Homo sapiens: one gene and its partners. The protein of the gene in region 3 interacts with the protein of the main gene of each other region in a biochemical or structural test. Each region holds a gene or a part of one and is shown on either strand. Other genes may lie near its edges.

Region 1 (2,174 bases), on a different chromosome or scaffold from region 3:
TGCCAAATAAGCACTAAAGTAACCAGCAAATGAATTCCAACAGCTGCTTCAGTTCTGTTCACCTCTCCATCCCATACCTATCAACAACGGGGAATGTGGAAGTTTTGGATCTGAACAGCCTAAGAAACATCTCTCCATTGCTAGTCTCCAGATCTTTCCAGGCTGCTAACAATGGAGAGCGCGGAGTCTTGGCTTTCTTCACCACACTGACGAGTGAGGCCTTGTGTGTTTAAGACCCCACTGGTAACACACACTCAGCTTCCCCCATCCTTAAAGGGTAGGGAGCCAGGGTGGGCTTCACATGGGCGGACCTGCTGCCAGTCAGCCTGTCTACTGTGAAGTCGAGTCCAAGAGGTTCCTGTCCCCTCTAGTCACATGGCCACCCTGCCCAGACTGAGCCTCCCCTGCTTCCCTGTAGAGGGGCAGGCCCGGGTGCGGAGTGGAGGCCCTTGGTGCCCATCAGTCCCCCTCCCACAGAACAGTCACCACCACACTGAGAATTTATCATAGAATAGATTTATTTACCTGAAACCATGTCTGTGCGACGCTCATTGTTACCAGCACAGAAAGAAACAAACTGATCTCTATTTACAGTCTAAAGTCAAACATGCGCAGTGATAAATTGACATTTAGCATTTTATTAAGATAAATGCATCACAATATTTGTATTGCACCAACATCTGTCTACTGCTTCTGATTTCATTAAATAAGTTACATTTAATACAGTGCGAAATAGCTGTCTGCACACTCAGAAAATAACTGAAAATGAACTGGAGGCCTACATTTTAACCATTCAACACCTGTAGTGTTTTTAATGAATTTATAAATAAGCAAACTGTACAGGGCCAATTAAAAAGTAGCATGTTCCAATGTCACTGGAGAGGGATCTGGCTACTTACAACCGAAGGCATGCATTACAATTGAATACTGTACATTTATATAAGCTATGACATTTTGCAGAGAAATGTGGCGACTTGGCTGACGGCTTCCAAGTTCTTAGATAAGGTTACAGAGCCTCATTCCTCTTGCAGCAAAGAAACCAAACTTCTCTGGAGAGGCTTTCTGATTAAGCTAAATTGTACATCTGTAATCAGTATTTTGATTTAAAAGCTAACAACCCCATTGGTAATACACATTTCCTCCACATAACACAAAGTGAGTTGGGAAGTTTTTTACTTTTCTTTTTCCCCAACATCAGTCATGCACAGGGTTGGTAGATGTGTTGCTAAAAACGCACATGCACGCAACCGAACACCCTTACATTTCTGCAAAATGGTTTAGGAAGCGGTTACTCCAGTATTGCTGAAAAGGAAAGAGAGAGGAAATCAGCTTCATGAAATACAGAGAGGAAACGTTAGAATACCTATTTAAATAGATGAAGATCAACAGCGACAGATGAAAAGGAACATTCAGCTTGATCTTTTCAAGGTTTCAAGACCAGCATTTCTGATTTACTGTCCCTGAGGTGCCGCCCACACAGGGTAGCATCTAGAAGCACTGGCTCAGTGACACAGACTCCTCGTGTCGTCTGGCTACAGAATAAAGGCTCTGGAGGAAAACCCCATGAGGCAGACACAATCGTTGCAGCTGTGAAAGCAGCGAGACAGGCAAGAGGACAAGGTCTTGGTTAGTGGTGCAGAGGGTGAGGTTGATGGAGAAGTGAGCAGCCAGTAGCAGCACAGCCTTCCTGTCCCTGCCCTGTGGGCACCCGGCTTCTGGCTGCTCGCCTGCCTTGCCTAGCCCTGGAGAGGAAACTCCTCCGCATCATTCTCCTCAGTAAAGGAGGGTGAAGCCTACCCTTCTTGCTAACTGCAGCGGGTGTTTGGACAATTTGGTGGTTACAGTCACAGGGCAACTGCTGGCTCTGCTCACAGGCACTGCAGACGTGGTATGCTCTGGCCCTGGACAGTGGCTAGATGCTTGGTAGACACTGAGCTAATCTTGTGGTCTCAGGTCTTAGGTCTGCCCACCTCAGTCAGGGCTGAAGCTCCAGTCCGAGGGGATGTGGGAGCAGCTGTTGTGAGGGAAGTCGGCCAGATGCCCTGCTTGCCTGGGAGCTCACTGAGCTCAAGGGACAGCTTCCTCCAGAATGGATCATCTGCATTCTGCAGAGTGGTGTCCCAGTTAGGGTATGTATGATTGTTGGTCTTCTGGGCAAAGCTCAGAGAGGCCAA
Region 2 (3,500 bases), on a different chromosome or scaffold from region 3:
ACTGCACTCTAGCCTGGGTAACACAGTGAGACCCTGTCTCAAAAAAGAAAGAAAAGGAAAGAATGGGAAGGAAGGAAGAAAGAGAGGAAGAGAGGGAAAGGAAAAGGAAAAGGAAAAGGAAAAAGGAAAGGGGAGGGGGAAAGGGGAAAGGAAAGGCAATCTGTCATTATTAGAGGGTGGTTTTGAGGACAATATAGCAAAAAAAAATTTTTTTTAAACATCATACAGGCCAGGCACAGTGGCTCACACCTGTAATCCTGATACTTTGGGAGGCCAAGGCAGGCAGATCACTTGAGCCCAGGAGTTTGAGACCAGCCTGGGCAACATGGAGAAATCCCATCTCTATAAAAAATTAGTTGGGGGTGGGGCACGGTGTCTCATGCCTGTAATCCCAGCATTTTATGAGGCCGAGGCAGATGGACAACCTAAGGTCAAGAGTTCGAGACCAGCCTGGCCAATGTGGTGAAACCTTGTCTCTACTAAAAATACAAAAATTAGCTGGGTGTGGTGGCGGGCACCTGTAATCCTAGCTACTTGGGAGGCTGAAGCAGGAGAATCGCTTGAACCCGGGAGGCGAAGGTTGCAGTGAGCCGAGATCGTGCCATTGCACTCCTGCCTGGGCGACAAAGTGAGACTCCATCTCAAACAAAAAAAAAAAAAGAAAGAAAAGAAAAGGAAAAAAAAAATTAGTCGGGCGTGGTAGCACACGCCTGAAGTCCCAGCTACTCTGGAGGCTGAGGTAGGAGGATCATCTGAGCCCAGGAAGTCAAGGCTGCAGTGAGCCCTGATTACACCACTGCACTCTAGCCTGTGTGACAGAGTGAGACCCTGTCTCAAAAAAAAAAAAAAAAAATCAGGCAGAAAACAGATGCAATATTGCAGATTGTTATGATGACAAGGATGTGTACACATCTGTAATCTGCCCACAGAACAGCTCTTAAGGAAGCACATCGAAATGACAATAGTGGCTATATGAGGATGAGTGATTTTTTTTTTCCCTTATCCTCAAAATAATAATTCTGGGCAATTCAGTCGCATGATGAAGCATGTATATCTGCACCTATATCTCATCTAAAAGGAGTAAGGGGGCAGCGGCCCAAGGCTGTGCAGGATAGAAGATGGCGCAAGGGTGGGCTTCAGGCCTCGGGAGAGTTGGGGAGGGCCCACCTTGCTCTCCTGGTTGCCGTAGGCCAGGAGCTGCAGGCAGTCGGTGGTGATGGCCAGGAACTTGGGGTTGTTCTTGTTGAGCAGGGGCACCATCTTTTGCAGCCCGTCGGCCAGGCGCACGGCCATCTTGGCGCCCTCCTGGTACAGGAGCAGGTTGTGCAGCGTGGTGATGGCATAGAACAGGACCGACTCCACAGGGGAGCTGGGGGGGTGGGCAGGGGTTAGTACGCTGAGGTCCCAGAGGCCTGGCATACATGTGAGCCTGGCATGGGTTCCCACCTCCCCCAGGAAGCCTCCCCGCTACTGACGCCCCTCTGGAAATATCCCTTTGCTAAAATCTCATCACTCCTTGAGCCTGCCCTGCTCTTAAGCATGAAGCAAACAGCACCTCTCTTCTCCCAACTGGGACAATGACTCCTCCTGCTTCTGAGTCCCCAGCCCTGTGCTGAGCGCACAGTAGGTCCCCTAGACACTGATCCCTACTAAGTAACCACCATGTGGAAGGCCACATATTAGAGAGGCCTTGCAAGGCGTTCAGAGGGGAGTGAAATCAGTGTCTCCCCTTCAGGGAGCTTCCAGCCTGGTATGGGAATGAGAAATAAGGCCAGGAGCAGTGGCTCACGTCTGTAAACTCAGCGCTTGGGGAGGCTGAGGCAGGTGGATCACCCTGAGGTTAGGAGTTCGAAACCAGCCTGGCCAACGTGGTGAAACCCCGTCTCTACTAAAAATACAAAATTGAGCTGGGCATGGTGGCAGACGCCTATAATCCCAGCACTTTGGGAGGCCAAGGGGGGCAGATCACCTGAGGTCAGGAGTTCAAGACTAGCCTGGCCAACATGGTGAAACCCCATTTTTACTAAAAATACAAAAATTAGCCAGGCATGGTCGTGGGTGCCTGTAATCCCTGCTACTTGGGAGGCTGAGGCAGGAGAATCTCTTGAACCCGGGAGGCAGAGGTTGCAGTAAGCCGAGACTGTGCCATTGCACTCCAGCCTGGGCAACAGGAGGAAAACTCCATCTCAAAACAAAAAAAAATAGCTAGGTATGGTGGCAGATGCTTGTAATCCCAGCTACTCAGGAGACTGAGGCAGGAGAATCATTCGAACCCAGGAGGTGGAGGCTGCAGTGAGCTGAGATCACGCCACTGCACTCCAGCTTGGGTGACAGAGCAAGGCCTCATCTCAAAAAAAAAAAAAGAAATGAGGCCAATCCACATTTTGTAGGGGGCCAGGAAACAGAAAGTTTGCAAGGGACTTTGCATTTGCTGTTCCCTCTGCCTGGGACACTCTTCCCTTCCTCTGCACTAGCCAAACTCCACTCATCTGTCAATCCCCTGCCATTAAGCGATTCCACCTTTGAGCAATCTCAATGCTCTTCTGCCATAGCCTGTGTCGTATCCTGATCATTAACCTGCTGTTTACATGCCTGTGTTCCCTGCTGGGCTGTGAGCCACCGAGCACCCGGATGGGGTGTGCTTCTGCCTGGCACATAGTAGGTGCTCACTGGATATTTATGGAAGCTCAGGGAAGGGAGGGGAGAGGCCCAAGTGAGAGGGGGTCCTGGGCTCATGCAGTGAGCAGGGTTGGGTACCTGAGCATGCGGACCAGAGCAGGGATGCCACCCGACTTGAAGATGGCGAGCAGCCCCTCCCGGTGGTGGGAGAGGTTGTGCAGGATGCTGGTGGTGCAGCGGGCTGTGTCCAGGTCGCTGGTATTCTGCATGGTACGCACGACAGCGGCCACCAGCTGGGGCGAGCCCATCAGGGCCCGCCGCGACGCCTCCTTCTTCGACAGCTGGTTCACAATCATGGCCGCCTTGGTCACCACCACCTGGAGGGCAAAGGCAGGGGCGGGGACGTGAGCACTAAGGAGAGGCCGGGATACCCTTCCACAGAGCTGAGGAGGGCCCCAGTCAGACTCATCACACACGGGAGAGTCTGGGTCATAACCTCCCTCCACCCCTACAATGTCCCTCCCCTGAGGACATCTGCTCTCTCCCCTCCCTGCCCAGCCCCCACCCTAGCAGGGACCCTCACAGACCGGGTCCTCGTCGTTGAGCAGTTTGGTGAGCTCGGGCAGGGCGCGAGTGGCCAGCTCGGCATCGTCCTGGTAGTTGATGAGATGCACAATGGCCGACTTGAGCAGCTGGGACGGCTCGGCCAGTCGCTGCAGGTTGGTGGCCTGCCCCTCCACCTGGGTGGCCAGCAGAAGCGAGCTGTCCTCGCCTGACACACCAGGGCACATGGCCTCCCGCACCCGTTTGGCCCTGGCTGTTGTGGACATCTGGTACTCCAGATCACCTGGGGGCCATGGGGACAGGGACTGAGTGCAGGC
Region 3 (3,500 bases):
TGTACGTGAATGTGTGTAGTGTGCATACGTTGCTAACCCTAAATGAGCCTTGAGTACAGAAACTGCACTTTAATTCTGGGGCCCTCTGGATCGTCTCCTTCAGCTGGGATACCTGGAACCTATAGGGTTACACGTCACAAACCAAGAACAACATGTTCATCATTGACCTTATGGTGCAGAAAGTATCTCTTTATCCACTGAACTTAAATGTCAAAACTGATAAAGAAAAACTTTTGGAAGATATTTATGTGGGAACGCACATCCCCCATTGAATGGCTCATTATAGTTGGGCCTTGAACAACCCAGGGGTTAGGGGCGCCAACTCTCACGCAGTTGAAGATTCATGCATAACTTTTGACTCCCCTAAAACTTAACTACTAGTAGTCTATTGTTGATCAGAAGCTTTACTAATAACATGAACAGTCAATTAACACATATTCTGTATGTTATACGTATAATATACTACATTCTTAGAATAGAATAAGTGAATTCAGGCACAGTGGCTTACACCTGTAATCACAACTAATTGGGAGGCTGAGGCAGGGGCATCACTGGAGCCCAGGAATTTAAGACCAGCCTGGATGACACAGCAAGATCCTATCTCTAAATAAATAAATGAATTAAGAAAGTAAGCTAGAGAATAGAGAATGTTATTGAGAAAATCACAGGGAAGAGAAGATATACTTAGAGCACTGCACTGTATTTATTGACACCATAAGTTTACATCATCTGTTTATGAGATGAATGGTCTGAAATGGTGGCAACCACGCTGCAGACCTCAATCTGTGGTGCACAGCAAACAATTCAGCTTTTTGGCAATGCTGTGATATTCCCGCTTCTTGGGGCACTTGCAACATCCCTTGTGGCACTTCGTGTGGGTCCCGGGGTGTTATTCAAGGTTTACGTTACTGGACTCAACACGAAGGAGGGAAGGTACACAAGAACTCTGAGAGATCACTCGTTACCATGCTCTGCAATTTACTGGAGAGAGAAATTGCTTCCACAGGGATGATTAAGACATTTTACTCAGAAACCCATGTCACACTATGTGCTCCAGTTAACCATGGGCAGGAATGATTGAACGCTGCATCTTTACCTTTGTCTATATTCCTCTCCACTGCAGATGGTGCCAAATTGATTGATTTATATTTTACAGGAGTAAATGATGAAATAGACTAGTATCTACATATATTGTATGAATTCACGACATCTCTAACTTTTTCTTAATGTTTTGATATTTTTAAGCTACACAGTTTGTCTTAAGAGGTTTTTACAATTGTTAAATTGTTTTCAAAAAATTTTCCAACATACTTATAGAAAACAATTGGCATACAAATGAGCCCACGCAGTTCAAGCCCATATTGTTCAAAGGTCAATTGTGTTTCTTTCCTATCACTTGCTATATTTGGGCAGCTGTGTATTATAATAGAAGAACACCAGGTTTTGGAGTCAGATAAAATTTGAGGCCTTTCTTTGCCCAGTATTAGCTGTTTGATCTTGAGCAATTCACTCTCTCAGAGCCTCCACTTTTGAGCTGTGAAATGGAATCGTGATAAAAATGTTGTCATAACTTCACATGACAGAGTGGCCAGCATGCAGGGCTCACATCCCGGATTCACATGAGTTCACTACGTGCTTTCATAAAGACACACGTCCTAAGGCAATGCTGAGCCAGGCCGTACATGTCGATTTGATGTCTGCTTTGCAGCTACCTGGCTTCCTGGCAGGGTCAGCTCTGGCAATATCCAGAACAGCATTTCCAGCCACCCCCACGACTGAAGAAAGCCCACCCCCCACCTAGGACTGCAAGACATCATCTTATTATGTTCCCTTTCCTGAAAAAAACAAAAAGGGTTGTATTCTAAAATTACATATTTTTTCTATTTATATTTATTATGAAACAATTATAGCAACAATAAAGGGAATTTAAAAGATAAACTTATTACTATGTTTTGTCATCTGATTTTTAAAAATATGTCAATAATTATTAATATAACCTTAATAATAGGACAATAATTAATATTCTCTTTCATGCAATGTGAATTTGTACATATAACTGTATAAATTTATAGTAGAATTACTTAAAATATGTTGTAAGATTTTAAAATATTTCTCAATGGTCTTTTGATTATTCTTCAAATATCATTAATTTAAGGAATATCCTTAAACATTCTCATACATATAGCTCTTTGATTCCTCTGAACTCAGTGTTGTAATGGACTCTTCTTTAGATTCAATTCTGAGGAGTGAGACTGCTTGATCAAGCAAGGGATTGTTTTTCCACTGTTTAGCCTCACAAAGAATGTGTTGTAAGTTCTACAAAAGGAAAATTAATTATTCATATATAGCTCATTTCCCCAGATAGTTCCTGTAGCTCCTTTAAAAACAATCACTCAGACCTTGTGGATCGCAGTGTGTTGATACGACTGGAAACCCTGAGCACTGAAGTTCAAGGTCAGCGGCTTGCCGTCAACAGTCAGTCAGCGGCTGGCTAGGCCATCGGGTTTCCTCGTCTGGACCGAGCCTTCGGGTTTCGTCGTCTGGACCGAGCCTTCCGGTTACCTCGTCTGCACGGAGCCTTCGGGTTGCCTCGTCTGCACGGAGCCTTCCGGTTGCCTCGTCTGGACGGAGCCTTCCGGTTGCCTCGTCTGGACGGAGCCTTCCGGTTGCCTCGTCTGGACTGAGCCTTCCGGTTACTACGTCTGGACTGAGCCTTTGGGTTTCCTCGTCTGGACTGAGCCTTTGGGTTTCCTCGTCTGGACTGAGACTTGACCCGGCTTCTTCCCACCTCTGGGACCTGGAACTCCCTATCTTTAGAGCATTTGCTTTAGAAAATGTATTATTGTATGTTCTTTCTCTGCCATTTGATACCTGAATCTTTCTAGAAGTCTCTTGCTGGCTGTACAACCCAGGACTGTCTTTCTCAAGGAGCTGGGAGCTGTCCCTTCAAAATGTGATCACTGGCAAGATGGCGTCATCTCCTGTCCCTGTGGAAGGATGGAGCCCAGCCTTGGTGGGTGCTTGGCTCTAAGCTGTGCAACCACCTCCTGTCATGAAGATGGGGGAAGCTCTCTGTTTCTTTGCAGGAGGCCAATTAACAGACAATGATGGCCCTAATCTCCTTCCCATCCCAACTTGTAGAAACCCTCTCATCCTTTGTTTCAGTGGAGTTGAATCTCTGAATCTCTCTCTCTCTCCTATCATAATAGACTTGAATAAGGTCTTCTTGCCTTCTTCGCCTTTAACTCTGGTGCAGTTTTGTCCTGACATGGCTTTAGGAAAATCATTTAGGAATTCTTCCTCTCAGTGTTGATATTATCCAAACAGGACTACCCCGAAGATCCGTGGAGAACACGTTCTAGAACTCTTAACGGCCACTCGCGACAGGCTCCCGGAACACCACTGCTTCTAGCACGTGGAATAGAGCGGGATTCGGGATGAGCTTTGCAGCCACGTGAGTCTGGGCCCCATCCCTGTCTCTGCTTGGCTTCTGGAAAGTC
Region 4 (3,500 bases), on a different chromosome or scaffold from region 3:
TCCACAGACACCGGGGTTGGCCTGCCAGGGTCCCAGGGTCGCCGGGAGGGGAATGGGAGAGGGGCGCTGGGGTACACTACCTGAGCTAGACAAGGCGGTTTCAACACCAAGGGGCAGTGAAGCAAACCCAGGAGGGAGAGAGCAGGCAGTGGGGAGAGAGCGCGGGCCCGGCAGACCCCCGGAGATCCCTGCTTTCCTGCTGGCCACAGTGCCTACAGACGCAGCCTCCCAGCGACCAGTCCACTTGAAGAACAGACCAGGGCCTGGGCTGGGAGCTTTTAGAGAGGATGCCAGACGGCAGCTGCCACGTGACCTAAGGGTGGGGTCCAGGAGTCACCGGGAGGTGCTTCCGGATGGAACTGGATGCCCCATGCCCACTGCCCTGAGGCCCTGGGCTTCTCAGGTTTCGGTGACATCTGGGAGGAGCCCAGGGCAAGGCCTGGACCCACATTCCCAGACACCAAGAAAGCACTGACTGGAAGGGAGAGTGCAGGCGCCTGCATCACCCAGGGTAAGACATAGGGACTCGGAGGGGGAGGCGCCAACAGCCCCCATCCCTCATGCAGAGACTGTTCAGCTAGCTAGGGCGCCTCATGAGGCACGAACACAGCACTCAGTATCTATCAAGTGCTTACTACCTGCCACGTGCTCTTCTAAGAGCTTTAATAAACTGATTCATTTAATCCCTTCCATCACACTGTGATTATTATCCCCATTTTCCAGATGAGCAGACGGAAGCCTAGGAAGATTGAGTCACTGTGATGGTTACACAGCCTTTCAGGAGTGAAGCTTCCAGGCTGGGCTGTAGGGGTGAAACCAGTGCCCCACAACACCAAGACCTGAGGCCTGACTGTGTGCGTGGCACTGCAATCCTTTTGGTCCCAAGCCCCTGCAATCCCAGGTGGTGATGAGATGTAGACTGCCACAAATCGGCACTCAAAAGAACAGGTTCAAGGGCCCTCACCAGCACTCCAACCCACAGCCACTCACCCTCATTCGGAGATGGGGCACTCTACCTCATGATCAAGCCTTACCATTGGAAGACCCCTTGGAGATCACTCAATGCAGGGAAGGCTGGCACACGCCTCCCCGCCCAAGGTGCCTGCTCCAGCCTCGCCCAGGCAAGCACCATTCCTCAGCCACAGAGCTTCATCCACTGCATCCAGAGCAGCTCAGAATCTTTCCTAATCCAGGCACCATTCATCAGATGCAGCACTGGGGCCTGGAAAGCCCAGCCCTTCCTTTGCAGATGGGGAGACTGAGGCTCTGAGCCAGTGGTGCCCTTGCTCCATCACATAGGGTGTGAGAGGCAGGGCTGGCTGCAGGGTTAGGGGCTCTCCCTCATGCCAGGCCCTGCCCTGGGTGTAGGACCACATCAAGGCTAGGCTGGGCACAGGCAGCCAGGAGGGGCACTGCTGGGGGACACTGCCAGAGCCAGGAGTGGGAGGCAAAGACGTGCTGGGCACCCTGGGGCAGTGAGGAAGCTTGGCTGGATGGGGGAGAACCCAGGCTGGTGTGGAGGGGAGAGGGAGAGTGGTGGGTGGCATTCCTATGTCTCATAATCTGGGAAGAAGATGATGACCTCTTACGCCCAATCCCCTTTCCAGGCCAAACTTCCCCACCAGAGACTCACCTGGCCTCTGTCCACCAAGCTAACCCATGGCCCTCAAACATTTGGGTCCAATGCCATGATGGCTTCCTATGCCAAATGCAGGCTAGGCCCGAGGAGAGAGGCAGCAGCAACACATCACTGTGTGCAGGGCATGGGGTGGTGGGTGCCCCACTGATATCCTAGGCCCTTACCACCTCAGGCCCACCTGTCTCAATTCCTACACGAACCAGTGTCTCTCTGCCCAAAAACTCTCTCTAGCCGTGGACATGCTCTGCCATTCAGAGGGCAGGCTGAGGAGCTGATGCTGCCAGGACAGCTTTCAGTCAGTGACTGATGGGAGCAGGTGGCTGGGCCCCAGCAAGCTGCCCCTGGGAGGGGCACTGCTTCCCTGGCCTCCCCAGCGGGAGTCAGCTCCAGTGCCCCAGCAGTAACTGTATCAACGACATGCCCTTTATCACTTCCTTCTCTTTCTCACCTCATTTCCTTATTTCCTGGGATCACCTCCCAGGAAACTACTTGCGCTGGAACCTTTGTCTCCTGGGCCTTCCTCATAGGGTCTCCAGTAGCCTCTCCACAGCAAAGGCTCTTGAACCCTGGCCTCCCCTCCTGGATGCTGTACACCAAGTCTCCTCCTGCTCTTCCTCCTCCACCTTCTGCCCCACAATACTGAGCTGCCTTCTCCTCCGCCTCCTCCACCTCCTCCTCCTCCCCTGGCCCCCTTTAGGATCCTCTAGCACTGGGCTTTTCCCATTCAGGCCAGAAGCTACTTCCCACCTTGTGTGAGAGTTGATCTTGCCCAGGCCCCATCTCTGACCAAGCTCAGAGGTCTAGAGAGGCTGATGCAGGTACTAGCAAAGAGGGGCACCCAGGAAATGCATCCCAGCCAGATGAAGGGTGAAGGACTAAGCAGCTGAATGGGATGGATGAGGAGATGGGTGGAAGAGTGATTGAATCAACATGTGGGTGGTCAGGCAGATGGGTGGATAAATCGGGTTGACAGATGGGTGGGTGGATGATAGGGGTGAGCAGATAGATGGACTGGCTAGGTGGGTGGAAGGATGGGTGGATGGATGGTTGAGCAGATGAATGGGTGGGGGAATGGGTGAGGAACGGATGGCATGGGCGAGGGGATGGATGGAGGGGTGGAGGCATGGGTGGGTGGATGGAAGGCTGAGCAGATAAATGGGTGGGGGAATGGGTGATGAAAGGATGGCATGGTGGGTGGAGGGGTGAAGGATGTACAGATGAGAGTCTGGTGGAAGGAATGCCTAGATGCACAAGAGCATGTCAATGACTTCACTCTTACCTCTTGAGTTCTGTCTTCTACGTAATGGTGCTGAGTAGGCACGGTACTGTCTTCAAGGCTGAATTAGTAGTGGCTGCCATTTCCCAGGCACCAGCTGGAAAGGATCCAGTCACTAGAACATCCTAAAGTTAAAAGAGTAAAGCCAAGTTACTGCAGGCGGTGCTGCTCTTCTCAGAGGGGCACAGAAGTAAGACATAACCACATGAACCCACATTTCTGCTCACTTCCCCAGGGCCCCACAGGAGATGGAAGGGCCTCTGGCCTGCACCTTTGATGCCCCACACCTTCACAGCATAGCAACCATCCAGAACCAGAGAAGAGCAGAACAAGATGGAGTGTCAGAGAAAAATGACCGCTGACAATTATTGAGTGCCTATTGCATGCCAGACACTATAGTAGGCATTTTACATACATCATCTCACATAATCCTCACAATTCCACAAGGTTGGAACTATTGTTGTTACTATTCCAGAGAAGTAGTTAATGTGGTAATTCTCCCACTGTCACAAAGGAATTCAGGCCCTCAGCCTGTACTCCCAGCCACCACCTGCAGAGCCTTCCCAACGCCAACCTTGGAGCCAG
Region 5 (3,500 bases), on a different chromosome or scaffold from region 3:
AACAAAATGTTAGTTAGTAAAAGAATTAAGTTGTAAAAACATAATTTCAGCAAAAATCAAACTTACTCTTCAACTGATGTATATGGTATTAATCGTCCATTCCAAAAACATTCAAAAATAGGCCTTTTCCCTCTAGCTGCTTTCTCAAGTATGAAACAATCATCTTCATCATCTTCATCTTTTAATTCTAGATCAAAAGGGCAAATGGAACAAAATGTTTATTGCTAAAATGTGAGAAATAATGAAACAAACACATAAATGTTTCAAATTGCATTCTATAAAACCTAAAGGTAGTTTTATACTGTTTGCCCACAAAAAGGTAGGTTTACAAAGTGGTTCCACATTACGAATGCTGTCTGTCATTTAGAAGTCAATAATTACTTATATATGAACCAATGTACTAGCTGCTGGGCCTGTCATCTTTAAAACCTATTCATGAGGCTAAAAGAGTCTTACATCCAAAAAGATTATCCCCTATAACAAAATCCCTCCTTCCTACAAATATAGGAGCTTAAATCCCGTATCTAAAACAGTTTCACAATTTTATCAGAACTAGTATGTTCACATGAAAGTCATCTGAGAAATCTATGACATCTAATAGCAGCGAGTTTACCTAGTTTGAACAAATTAGTGAATGATGCTAAAATTAAGTTTACTTTTTAGAAATTATTTTCAGATTCAAGTAAGCATGAAAAATGTACACAGAACTGTAAGACATGTTACTATGCATCAAGAGCATTAATTTGCACAATTGTCTATAATCTTATGTTTATTAGCAACACACTCTCGTGTATCCAGATAAATTAGGATTAAACAATGTGATCCTGACATATTAACACCTCAGCTACCCTGGAATTAGTTTACCCACCTAAAACAAAACCTTCTCCCTAAAAGCCCTCACAAGAAGTCCCTTATATAAAAGCTGCTTTCAATCAAACAAAATCACTTTGCTCTTAGAGGAGAATCCCTCTGATTGATCACTCAACTTACTTGCTCTTCTTTTTAAGGCAGCATTTGAAAAAAATTATATCTTTTTGTCTATTAGCACACAAAAATTGGAAACAGCAAATTTAAGAGGTCAGAGATGGCCAGGCACAGGGGCTTACGCCTGTAATCCTAGCACTTTGGGAAGCTGAGGTGGGAGGATTACCTGAGCTCAGAAGTTTGAGACTACCCTTGGCAACATGACAAAACCTTGTCTCTAATAAAATACAAAAAATTAGCCTGGCATGGTGGTGGGCACCTGTAGTCCCAGTTACTCAGGAGGCTGATCCATGAGAATTGCTTGAACCTGGGAGGCAGAGACTGCAGTGAGCCTACATTGTGTCACTGCACTCCAGCGTGTGTGGCAACGCAAGACTTTTGTCTCCAAAAAATAAAAAACAAAACCAAAAAGGCCAGTGGAGCCACTGAGTAACAATATGTACTGGGCAGGAGCACTTAATAAATAGTGTTGAGCACTATTCTGAGAAGTTGCCCCAGTTTTTAAATTTGATCTTCACAACACCCCTATGAGGTGTGAACTACCCATTTCCCAGGTAAGGAAACTAAGGCAGGGAGTAGTTTGTCCAACAGAAAGTGGCAAAGATGGGATTCGAATCAGGATCTCTGGTTGCAGGCCCTAGAAAACCAAGAATGTACTAAGGAAGTATTCTGAATGAAAAAGTTTAATATTGTTAACCTATAAATTCAATGCAATCCCAATAATCTCACTAGAATTACTTCAAGTGAATGTACAAAGCTGATTCCAAAATTATCTAGAAGAGCAAAAGTATTCTCAAAAAGGAACAATAGTGAAAATGTTTTTTCCCAAAGATACCAAATTACAAGATAAAGCTACAAGACAGTATCATTACTCATATTAAAAAAAAATAAAATAGTACTTTATAGTAAAGAATCTAGACCTATGTACTTATGGGAACTTTGTATTATACAAGTTCTAACTCTTGGGTAAATTATAACATTCAATAACTGGTGCTAAGAAACTGAATATGAATACCACATAGAAAATAATTGTTAAATCCCTATCTCTCTACTGGGGGGGGAAAAAAAGGTGGGGGCCAGGTGTGGTGGCTCACACCTGTAATCCTAGTACTTTGGGAGGCCAAGGCAGGAGGATTGTTTCAGGCCAGGATCTTAAGACCAGCCTGGGCAACACGGCAAGACCCCATCACTCAAAAATTTAAATAAATAAATAAAACCCCACCTTGCTCTACATACAAAAAAGAAAAACACAGATGCATTGACCATAAAATGACAACAAAAACAAAAAAGCTACAGATTTATATAATTTTGAGATGTAAAAAGCCTTTCTACAGTAAGACAAAATCAGAAAGCATAAAGAAAAAGTTAGTAAATATGACTGCATAAAGTGTAAAACTGCAACAAGGATAAAGAGAAGACAAGGGAACATATAAAGGATTAATACGCATACATATCTAAAAGTTTGGTTTCGTAACAGAACTAAAAGAAGAGTTCATTAAAGATTTATTCATCTAGAAATGAATGTACACAAAAATCAGGAATTACAAAAATTACAAATACCTAACAATCTAAGACTTGCATAAGAAAAAATTTAATATTTATCTAACCTGAATAACCCAACCGATAATCATTTAGAAAAACAAATCACTGTCCTAAATTACAACTTCATATTTTATAACTAAGATAACAGATTAACATACTTGATGGAAAGCATGGATCATCAGGGTAAGTTTCTCTATCATATAAGAATGGATGATAACGGATAATCCCTTCCACTACACCATCTCCTTCAACATGAGCTTTGAATTCAAAACTATCAGCTGCTGTGTTTACATACAACGTCTGCATGTCGTCTTGTATTTCCCTTAGGTTGACAATCTTAGGTACCTTCCCTTTTTCAAACATAGAAATCTAAAATAAAAAGGAAACAAAAATAATTAAATTCTATGGTAACTTTACTTTTGTTCTCAGCTATGATTCAACAACAGAATAAGTAAAAATTATGTTTATTTGTACAAGTAACAATCTGGCTTAATGAAATACATATATTTACATATGAGTTAAACAGCTTTAAGTAGCATCTCAATAAGGAACATACTACTAAAAAATATAAAGTAAGCAAAGAAACAGCAAATCAGAGCTGAAGGACAGAAAAGTCATGAGTACATTTAATTCGAGGTTTCTTGCTAGAGGTAGGAAGTGGGACAACATCGTATGTGAAATTCTAACGTGTGGGTTAGAGGATTGAGAATCCAATACTCAAATGCTCTGTGCTGCTAAACCTTGTCACCACGATATAACTTCTACAAACAAAAGGAAAGCTACATTATCTCCCTTTTCCTCCATGCTTCAAGAGATGATTGATGTTCAGTAACAATGCATAGCTCCACAGAAGAGAGACAAAAAAAGATAAACCAAGCCTACAGTAAATAAAGGTTTGAGAAAAATACATCTAGGAATAATCTCTTTAGTTGGATATCAAACAATGAAAGTAGTTTGGTAAAAAACAAGGAGAG
Region 6 (3,500 bases), on a different chromosome or scaffold from region 3:
CCATGCACAAGAAGTTGGCTTGCCTGCCTAAAAAATAAATTTCTATGCAGAGCTTGTGTAGGAAGAATGAAATCTGCAATTTGACTTTTAGGAGTGTCGTTTTCCGGGTCAGGCAGATTGGTATTCAGCGCTGGCTCTGCCATCTATAGCCTGTGTGAATTTAGGCAAGTTTATACCTTTTAATGTTTCAGTTTCGCTGTCTTTTCCTCACACACCTTTGAACAGAATATTAACTACAAGAAAACAGGACCTAGTCTTGTTTAAGAAAGACTCCCTAGTCCCCAGAACACCAAAGATCCTTAATAAATATTTGTTGAGTTAATAAATATATAAAATATGTATTTTGAAGAGTATAAGAATAGTAATTATATAATAGGGATATTTTGAGGATAAAATGGCATAATACATGATGAATACAGAGCATAGTCCTGGATCAGAGTAACTATTCTTATTAGGGAAAGTTCTAGAAAAGCTGGAGTAAGTTTACCTTCTGTGTCTAACTTCTACTTTCCCTTCAGATTGTGGAAGGGATTTATACTATGACTAGTGGCCCTGTGCCACAATCTAGCACCCATGTATGTGTGTAAGAAGTAAAATATTTATCTTACTAATATTCATATCTCCTGAACCTTTTATAATATTTAGGAGAAGTGGAAACAAGTTAAATGAATTAAAGTACTTTAGCACACAATCTAAAACTCATGCCATCAGTGAAAATGTTTTCAGAGCTTAACCATGCATACCAGAAAACAGGAGGTAGTACATGCGATATTTCATTGATTTTAAGGTGCTTATTTTAAATTTTTACATATCTGAAATCCGGATGCATTTTACAGTTAATGGCATCTTACAATTGACTGGCATCTTTCTTTCTTGGTAGTGCATAGCATAATATGATGTCTTAAATAGAGTTTATGAAATACCTTATAGCTATATATTAAAGCAGTCCTCAATGTTTATTTCTTATCACCATTCACCCCTGGCAAAGAGCCTTCTAGGCTTTTTTCCCTAACATCTCACCCCCATGAAATGTTAATACCACAGATATACTCAATATGCTTATCTGTGTTTTGTAAATGAAGTGATAAGATTTTTTTTTCCTCAAGAACCAATTTTCTTCCCCTTGGGGGCTCTATTATATTGGAAATGTAGGTATTAAAGTGATGCATTCCTTGTTATTCTTAGGTTGTAGAATCTCATTTACTAAAATAATGGGAATCATGAGCTAGTTCTTAGCTTTAGAGGTTTTGGCTTTAATTATATAATACAATGTCTAGGAATTGTGTTGTTATGATGAATGTCAAAATGCCTGCAAAGTTTGAACATTTGCTATTTACCCCAACAATCAGAAAGCTGTCCATAGTATTTTTTTGTTAACAAGTAAAAGATCTTCAAGTTCATCCAGTGATGTCATTTAACATATATTTCCCATTTTATGAAATAAGATTATTTAGTAATTCCAGTGTAGAAATTTAGGATGTTCACTACCTCACTTTTACATATTCATTATTTTAAAGCCATAATGTGAACAATACATCCATAAAGAGACATTTAAAGACCATCTGATATTCATGAAATACTAAGAAATATGCTGTTTTATGCTCCACATACTACACTCAGTTGGGAGAATGAAGATGTGCAATTGTTGAAGTCTTTGTGTAGACTCATGTACTGCAATCTAAGCAGTTTTGGGATTCCCACCTCTTATAGTAATAATGGGATACAGAGATCAGTTCATTTGTGACCAGTGGTTTACATGAAAAAGAAGATAGGGATATAATCTCTGCCCATCAAATATGGGTTTTCTCTTGTAAAGCTAAGTATTATATTCAATAGCTTTAACTGATAGAGAACGGAGTAATTTATGTACTTGGATAATATCTTTAAATAGCAAAGTTGTTCAATATGTTCTTAAATATTTACTTATCTTTCTCTGGGCTATGCAGTTTACCTTCCATTTTTAAAAAATTAGTGGTGCAAAAAACTTCTAATGTTAGTGATACATAAAATCTTTAACTTTTTTGTATGTATTGCAATAACATTATTTTATATTTGACAATTCAAACATGTTTATATTGGCCCAGTTGTATTTGGTTGTGTTAATTGGCTATTTTGGACACTCAAATGTGTCAGAACACTGTGCAGTTGTTATAGGTGATGTGAAATATTCTAGTAGATGAAGCAATATATCAGCAAAAATTAATTAAGATGAGCAGTACTCTGAAGAGACTCATCATCAGAATACAGAAATCCACATCACTGCTTTATCATTTTAGTTAATTGTACATAGCTTTTGTAAATAAATTGAAAATTAATTCAAAACCAGAAATCATCTCCCCCGCTGCTCCTAGTACTTGCTCTTTCTCTGCCTTTCAGTCGCAGCATCTCCATGATACTCCGGGCATAGACATCTCTCAAGTTAACACTGATATATGAGTCAGTGGCTATATTCTTGGTAAGCTTCTTTAGGGCTTCACGCTGTCTAACAGCTGCTTCCTTGAGTTTCAAGGTGAAGTAGCAAGCAGAGAAGCGATCGTTAATAATAGCAATAGGCAAGGCCAAGACAAGAATTCCCGATAATATACACATGAAGGCCACGATTTTGCCTGTGGTGGTGTCTGGTCTAATGTCCCCATATCCCACAGTAGTCATAGAGGTGGTGGCCCACCACCATGCACAAGGGACACTTGTGAAGGTTGTGTCAGGAATGCTTTGCTCAGCAAAGTATTCTACAGTTGAAAATATAGAGATTCCCACGGATAGAAATAGGAGCAGTAGGCCGACTTCTTCGTAACACTGGGTGATTGTCATCCCAAGGGAGCGTAATCCTGCAACAGAACAAATGCTGTCAGTCATTGGCATCCCTCTTCTCTCTCTTCCTTCCCTCCCCTCCCCTCTCCCTCCTTGCTCTGCCACCCACAAACTGCACTGCACACTTAAATGTCCCCAGCACTGGGCAATGTTCTGGGGATACAAAGTTGATTAAATCATAATCCTTGTGCCAGGAAGTTCACAGTCTAGTTGATGGGGCCAGGTTGAGAAGGCTAGAGAGAAATATAATTAGATTCATTAATTCACCTATAGAATTATTGAACTTCTACTATTAAAAAGAAGGCGAGAGGTAAGACTGAAGGCAGGCAGGGGTGGTATGATAGGAGTTTTGTACTTTAGTCTGTACAATAAGAGGCCTTTGCGGTGTTGCATGTGGAGGGCATATTTGGTCACACCTGCATTTCAATGCATCATTTTAGCACTTGTTTCAAATGCCAGTTTTATGTTGTCTTGTATTTTATGTGTCTGTTTTTCTCACCTTCCTTGTAAAGTTTAAGACAATCAGGAACCTGATTACAGGAAAGCCAGAAAAAGTAAACAATGGGCACCATAGCAACAAAGTGAAGCAGCAGAAGCAAGTTAGGCATTGGTGATAAAATTGACATGAGAACATCACATGTATATTCAGGGGACATTCTCAGCAGTATGTCAGGAGGAGGTCTGAACTC
Region 7 (3,500 bases), on a different chromosome or scaffold from region 3:
GTGCTGGGATTACAGGTGTGAGCCACCACACCTGGAGCAGTAACAATTTTAAAAACTCATTTATAAATGACTACAAGTCATTTTTTTTTTTTTTTTTTTGAGACAGAGTCTCGCTCTGTCACCCAGGCTGGAGTGCAGTGGCACGATCTCGGCGCACTGCAGGCTCTGCCCCCTGGGGTTCACACCATTCTCCTGCCTCAGCCTCCCGAGCAGCTGGGACTACAGGCGCCCACCACCTCACCCGGCTAATTTTTTGTATTTTTAGTAGAGACGGGGTTTCACCGTGTTAGCCAGGATGGTCTCAATCTCCTGACCACGTGATCCGCCCATCTCGGCCTCCCAAAGTGCTGGGATTACAGGCGTGAGCCACCGCGCCCAGCCAAATAAAGTTTTTTAAAAGCTTTCCATGGCAAAAACCTGATAAGCAAAGTCAAAGCCAGTAGAAAATATTTGCAACTTATATCATAAACAAAGGGCTAATCTCCCTAGCATTTAAAGAGCTTGCAAAAAATGTTAAGGGAAATATATCAAACGTTCAATAGAAAAATGAGTAAAAGACATGAACATTGTACCAAGAGAGATATAAAAATGGCCTTTAAATATATGATGAGATATTCAGTATCACTCATAACAGGACAAATACAAAAAAACCATACCGAGATGTAGCCATTGCCAATGACATCCCAAGAACAGAACAACACGAGAGACTACCACAGGGATTCAAATATCAAAATCTATACAGTAAGAAATGGCTCAGGAAAGATAACTGGTTTCTTTAAAATTAAATTCAAAAGCAGGAGAAGAAAAGGAACTAGAGGAGAAACCTATGAATTAAAAAAGACTTTAGATATCTGGACCAATCACGACATGTGGATTTTATTTAAATCCTGTTTCTTTAAAAATAAAAACAAAAACAAACAAAAAAACACTGACATACTTAAAATCGGAAATTTGAATATTGTCTGATGATATTAAGAAAACAGACACATTATTTTTGGTGTGATAACGGCATTGTGATTGTTACCAAAAAAAGGAGGAGTCCTTTTCATTTAGAGATATTTACTGATATAAAATAAATGTTATTTATCTGGGGCCAGGCATGATGGCTCACAATTGTAATCCCAGCACTTTGGGAGGCTGAGGCAGGAGGATTGTGTGAGCTCAGCAATTCAAGCCTACAAAATGACAAGACATTATCTCTGCCAAAAAAAAAAAAAAAAATTAGCCAGGCATGGTGGTGTGTGCCTGTAGTCCCAGCTACTTGGGAAGCTGAGGTGGGATAATCGCTTCAGCCCAGGAGATTGAGTCTGCAGTAAGCTATGATTGTGCCACTGTACTCCAGCCTGGGCAATAGAGCAAGACCCATTCTAAAAAAAAAAAAGAAAAAAAAAAAACAGAAAGAAAGAAAAGAAAAAAGCAAGAAAGAAAAGAAAAAAATGTTATCTGGGATTTGTTTCAAAATAATTTTTAGAGAAGGGAATAAACGGAGGCACTGGTGGCAGGGTTGGTAGTTGCTGGGGCTAAATGATGGTGTTCATGGGATTGGTTACACTATTCTATTTTTGTGGATGTTCACAAATCTCCATAATAGAAAAGTTTTTTAAATCTATACTATACAGATATACCATTTCTCATCTATTAGACTGGCAAAAATTCAAAAGTTTGACAACACACTATACTGATGAGGCTGTAAGAAAACAGAAACTCTTACATTGCTGGCAAGAAGGCAAAATGGTAAAACCCTACTGGGTGAATCTGGTACTATTTAACAAAATCATATATGCTTTTATCCTATGATCCAGCATTCCTACTTGGTACTGTAATGTGAAACATTTTAGGTATAACAAGACTTCCAGACCATTATAATGTACATTATTGGATAATGTAAATATGTTGATATGATTATATTTAAAATAAAAGAAAACATTTATTTGTTATTAGGAACCAAGACTTTCACAGTGAGAGAAAAGAGGTACAAACAAAAAACAAAAGAACAAACTGTGTACAATACATCTGAATTAGAAATAATATGAACTACATCATTTCTGAAGATATGACAGTAATAGAAAATCACCACTTTGTAATCCCAATGTCTCACTGATTTACACAAGCATCTTCAATGAACACTAAAACCACTAGATGAAATGCTGTTAGGAAACAGAATATTCATAGTCTCAAAATATCACCCCACAGTTTTGTTACTAATTGCAAACAGGAAATGTATCTTTACATTGGAGAGATCTTATAGCCCCCACCTTTACCAAGTAACTTGGTATCTATTGAATCTAGAAGCTAGGTACTAATGGATACCACTTCTCTCTAAACAAACCAAGTATAGTATGATTCCACTGACATGAAATATGCAGAATGGGCAAATCTATAAAGCTAGAAGGTAGATTACTAGTTGCCTAGGTACAGGGGAAATGAGTTGTTGTCTAAGGATAGGAGGGTACAGGGTTTCTTTGGGGATGATACTAATATTCTAAAATTGATTGTGGTGTTGTCCACGTAACTGTGAATGCACTAAATCATACATTTTAAATAAGTGATTTATATAGTGTGAATTATCTCAATAAAGCTTTTTCTAAAAAAAGAAACGATTACAATTGTCTTTCATTCTAGAGTACATAAGAAACCCTAAGGAATATTTCATCTCCCAGACCTCTATTGTTGGAGTATCCCAGAGGGTGGTCTGTGGATCTCTTTCCTATATATACTCAGTGTCTTGGTGAGGTTACTCATTCTCACAGGCCTAAATATTGATGACTTCCAGACTGTTATCTCCAGCCTTGAACACTGTTGACCTCCAGACCCATGTATACAACTGCCTATTCTACGGTTCCACTTATCTAACAAGCTATCTCAAACTTAACAAACTGAGCTCCAGATATTCCCCTCAGAATCCTGATCCAGCCTTCCCTAGCTCAGTAAAGGGCCACTCCCTTCTTCCAGTTGTTCAGGAAAAGTATCTTGAAGTCATACTTAAGTTTTTCTCACCCTGTGGTAGTCCGTTCTTGCATTGCTATAAAGAACTACCTGAGGCTGGGTAATTTACAAAGAAAAGAGGTTTAATTAGCTCACAGTTCCACAGTCTGTACAGGAGGCATGACTGGGGACGCCTCAAGAAACTTACAATCATGGTGGAAGGCAAAGAGGGAGGAGTTACCTCTTACATCGCAGGAGCAGGAGGAAGAAAGAGAGAAGAGAGAGGTACACACTTTTAAACAACCAGATCTCAGGAGAACTCACTCACTATCATGAGAACAGAAAGTAGGGATGTCTGTCCCATGAACCAACCGCCTCCCAACAGGCGCCTCCTCCAACACTGGGGATTACAATTCGACATGAGATTTGGGTGGGGACACAAATCCAAACCATATCCTACCCCATGTCCAATCCATCAGCAAATCCTGTTATCTCCATCTTCAAATTATAACCAGAATCCTACTTCTCACCACTTGCTACCTCTCTGGTCCAAGTGACCATGACCTCCCACCTGG

What was found.
Region 1: the proteins of SNTG2 (region 3) and ATP2A2 interact in a test that uses a peptide from one of them, tested with the Homo sapiens proteins (one large-scale study listed by IntAct).
Region 2: the proteins of SNTG2 (region 3) and JUP interact in a test that uses a peptide from one of them, tested with the Homo sapiens proteins (one large-scale study listed by IntAct).
Region 4: the proteins of SNTG2 (region 3) and KCNJ18 interact in a test that uses a peptide from one of them, tested with the Homo sapiens proteins (one large-scale study listed by IntAct).
Region 5: the proteins of SNTG2 (region 3) and SMCHD1 interact in a test that uses a peptide from one of them, tested with the Homo sapiens proteins (one large-scale study listed by IntAct).
Region 6: the proteins of SNTG2 (region 3) and KCNV1 interact in a test that uses a peptide from one of them, tested with the Homo sapiens proteins (one large-scale study listed by IntAct).
Region 7: the proteins of SNTG2 (region 3) and PLEKHA1 interact in a test that uses a peptide from one of them, tested with the Homo sapiens proteins (one large-scale study listed by IntAct).

The regions. Positions count from the first base shown.
Region 1 is NC_000012.12:110,349,420-110,351,593, reverse strand, and holds the end of ATP2A2 (sarcoplasmic/endoplasmic reticulum calcium ATPase 2), read right to left. Parts: 3' UTR 1,303-2,174; coding exon of another isoform or gene 1,289-1,302; 3' UTR 501-1,288; downstream 1-500.
Region 2 is NC_000017.11:41,766,212-41,769,711, forward strand, and holds part of JUP (junction plakoglobin), read right to left. Parts: intron 3,467-3,500; coding exon 3,207-3,466; intron 2,997-3,206; coding exon 2,758-2,996; intron 1,370-2,757; coding exon 1,168-1,369; intron 1-1,167. UniProt on the Homo sapiens protein: Common junctional plaque protein. The membrane-associated plaques are architectural elements in an important strategic position to influence the arrangement and function of both the cytoskeleton and the cells within the tissue.
Region 3 is NC_000002.12:1,261,849-1,265,348, reverse strand, and holds part of SNTG2 (gamma-2-syntrophin), read right to left. Parts: intron 3,455-3,500; exon of another isoform or gene 3,328-3,454; intron 3,014-3,327; exon of another isoform or gene 2,931-3,013; intron 1-2,930. UniProt on the Homo sapiens protein: Adapter protein that binds to and probably organizes the subcellular localization of a variety of proteins. May link various receptors to the actin cytoskeleton and the dystrophin glycoprotein complex.
Region 4 is NC_000017.11:21,695,523-21,699,022, reverse strand, and holds part of KCNJ18 (inward rectifier potassium channel 18), read right to left. Parts: intron 3,041-3,500; 5' UTR 2,919-3,040; intron 1-2,918. UniProt on the Homo sapiens protein: Inward rectifier potassium channels are characterized by a greater tendency to allow potassium to flow into the cell rather than out of it.
Region 5 is NC_000018.10:2,697,226-2,700,725, reverse strand, and holds part of SMCHD1 (structural maintenance of chromosomes flexible hinge domain-containing protein 1), read right to left. Parts: intron 2,896-3,500; coding exon 2,685-2,895; intron 188-2,684; coding exon 67-187; intron 1-66. UniProt on the Homo sapiens protein: Non-canonical member of the structural maintenance of chromosomes (SMC) protein family that plays a key role in epigenetic silencing by regulating chromatin architecture.
Region 6 is NC_000008.11:109,965,772-109,969,271, forward strand, and holds part of KCNV1 (potassium voltage-gated channel subfamily V member 1), read right to left. Parts: intron 2,829-3,500; coding exon 2,317-2,828; 3' UTR 1-2,316. UniProt on the Homo sapiens protein: Potassium channel subunit that does not form functional channels by itself. Modulates KCNB1 and KCNB2 channel activity by shifting the threshold for inactivation to more negative values and by slowing the rate of inactivation.
Region 7 is NC_000010.11:122,381,208-122,384,707, reverse strand, and holds part of PLEKHA1 (pleckstrin homology domain-containing family A member 1), read right to left. Parts: intron 1-3,500. UniProt on the Homo sapiens protein: Binds specifically to phosphatidylinositol 3,4-diphosphate (PtdIns3,4P2), but not to other phosphoinositides. May recruit other proteins to the plasma membrane.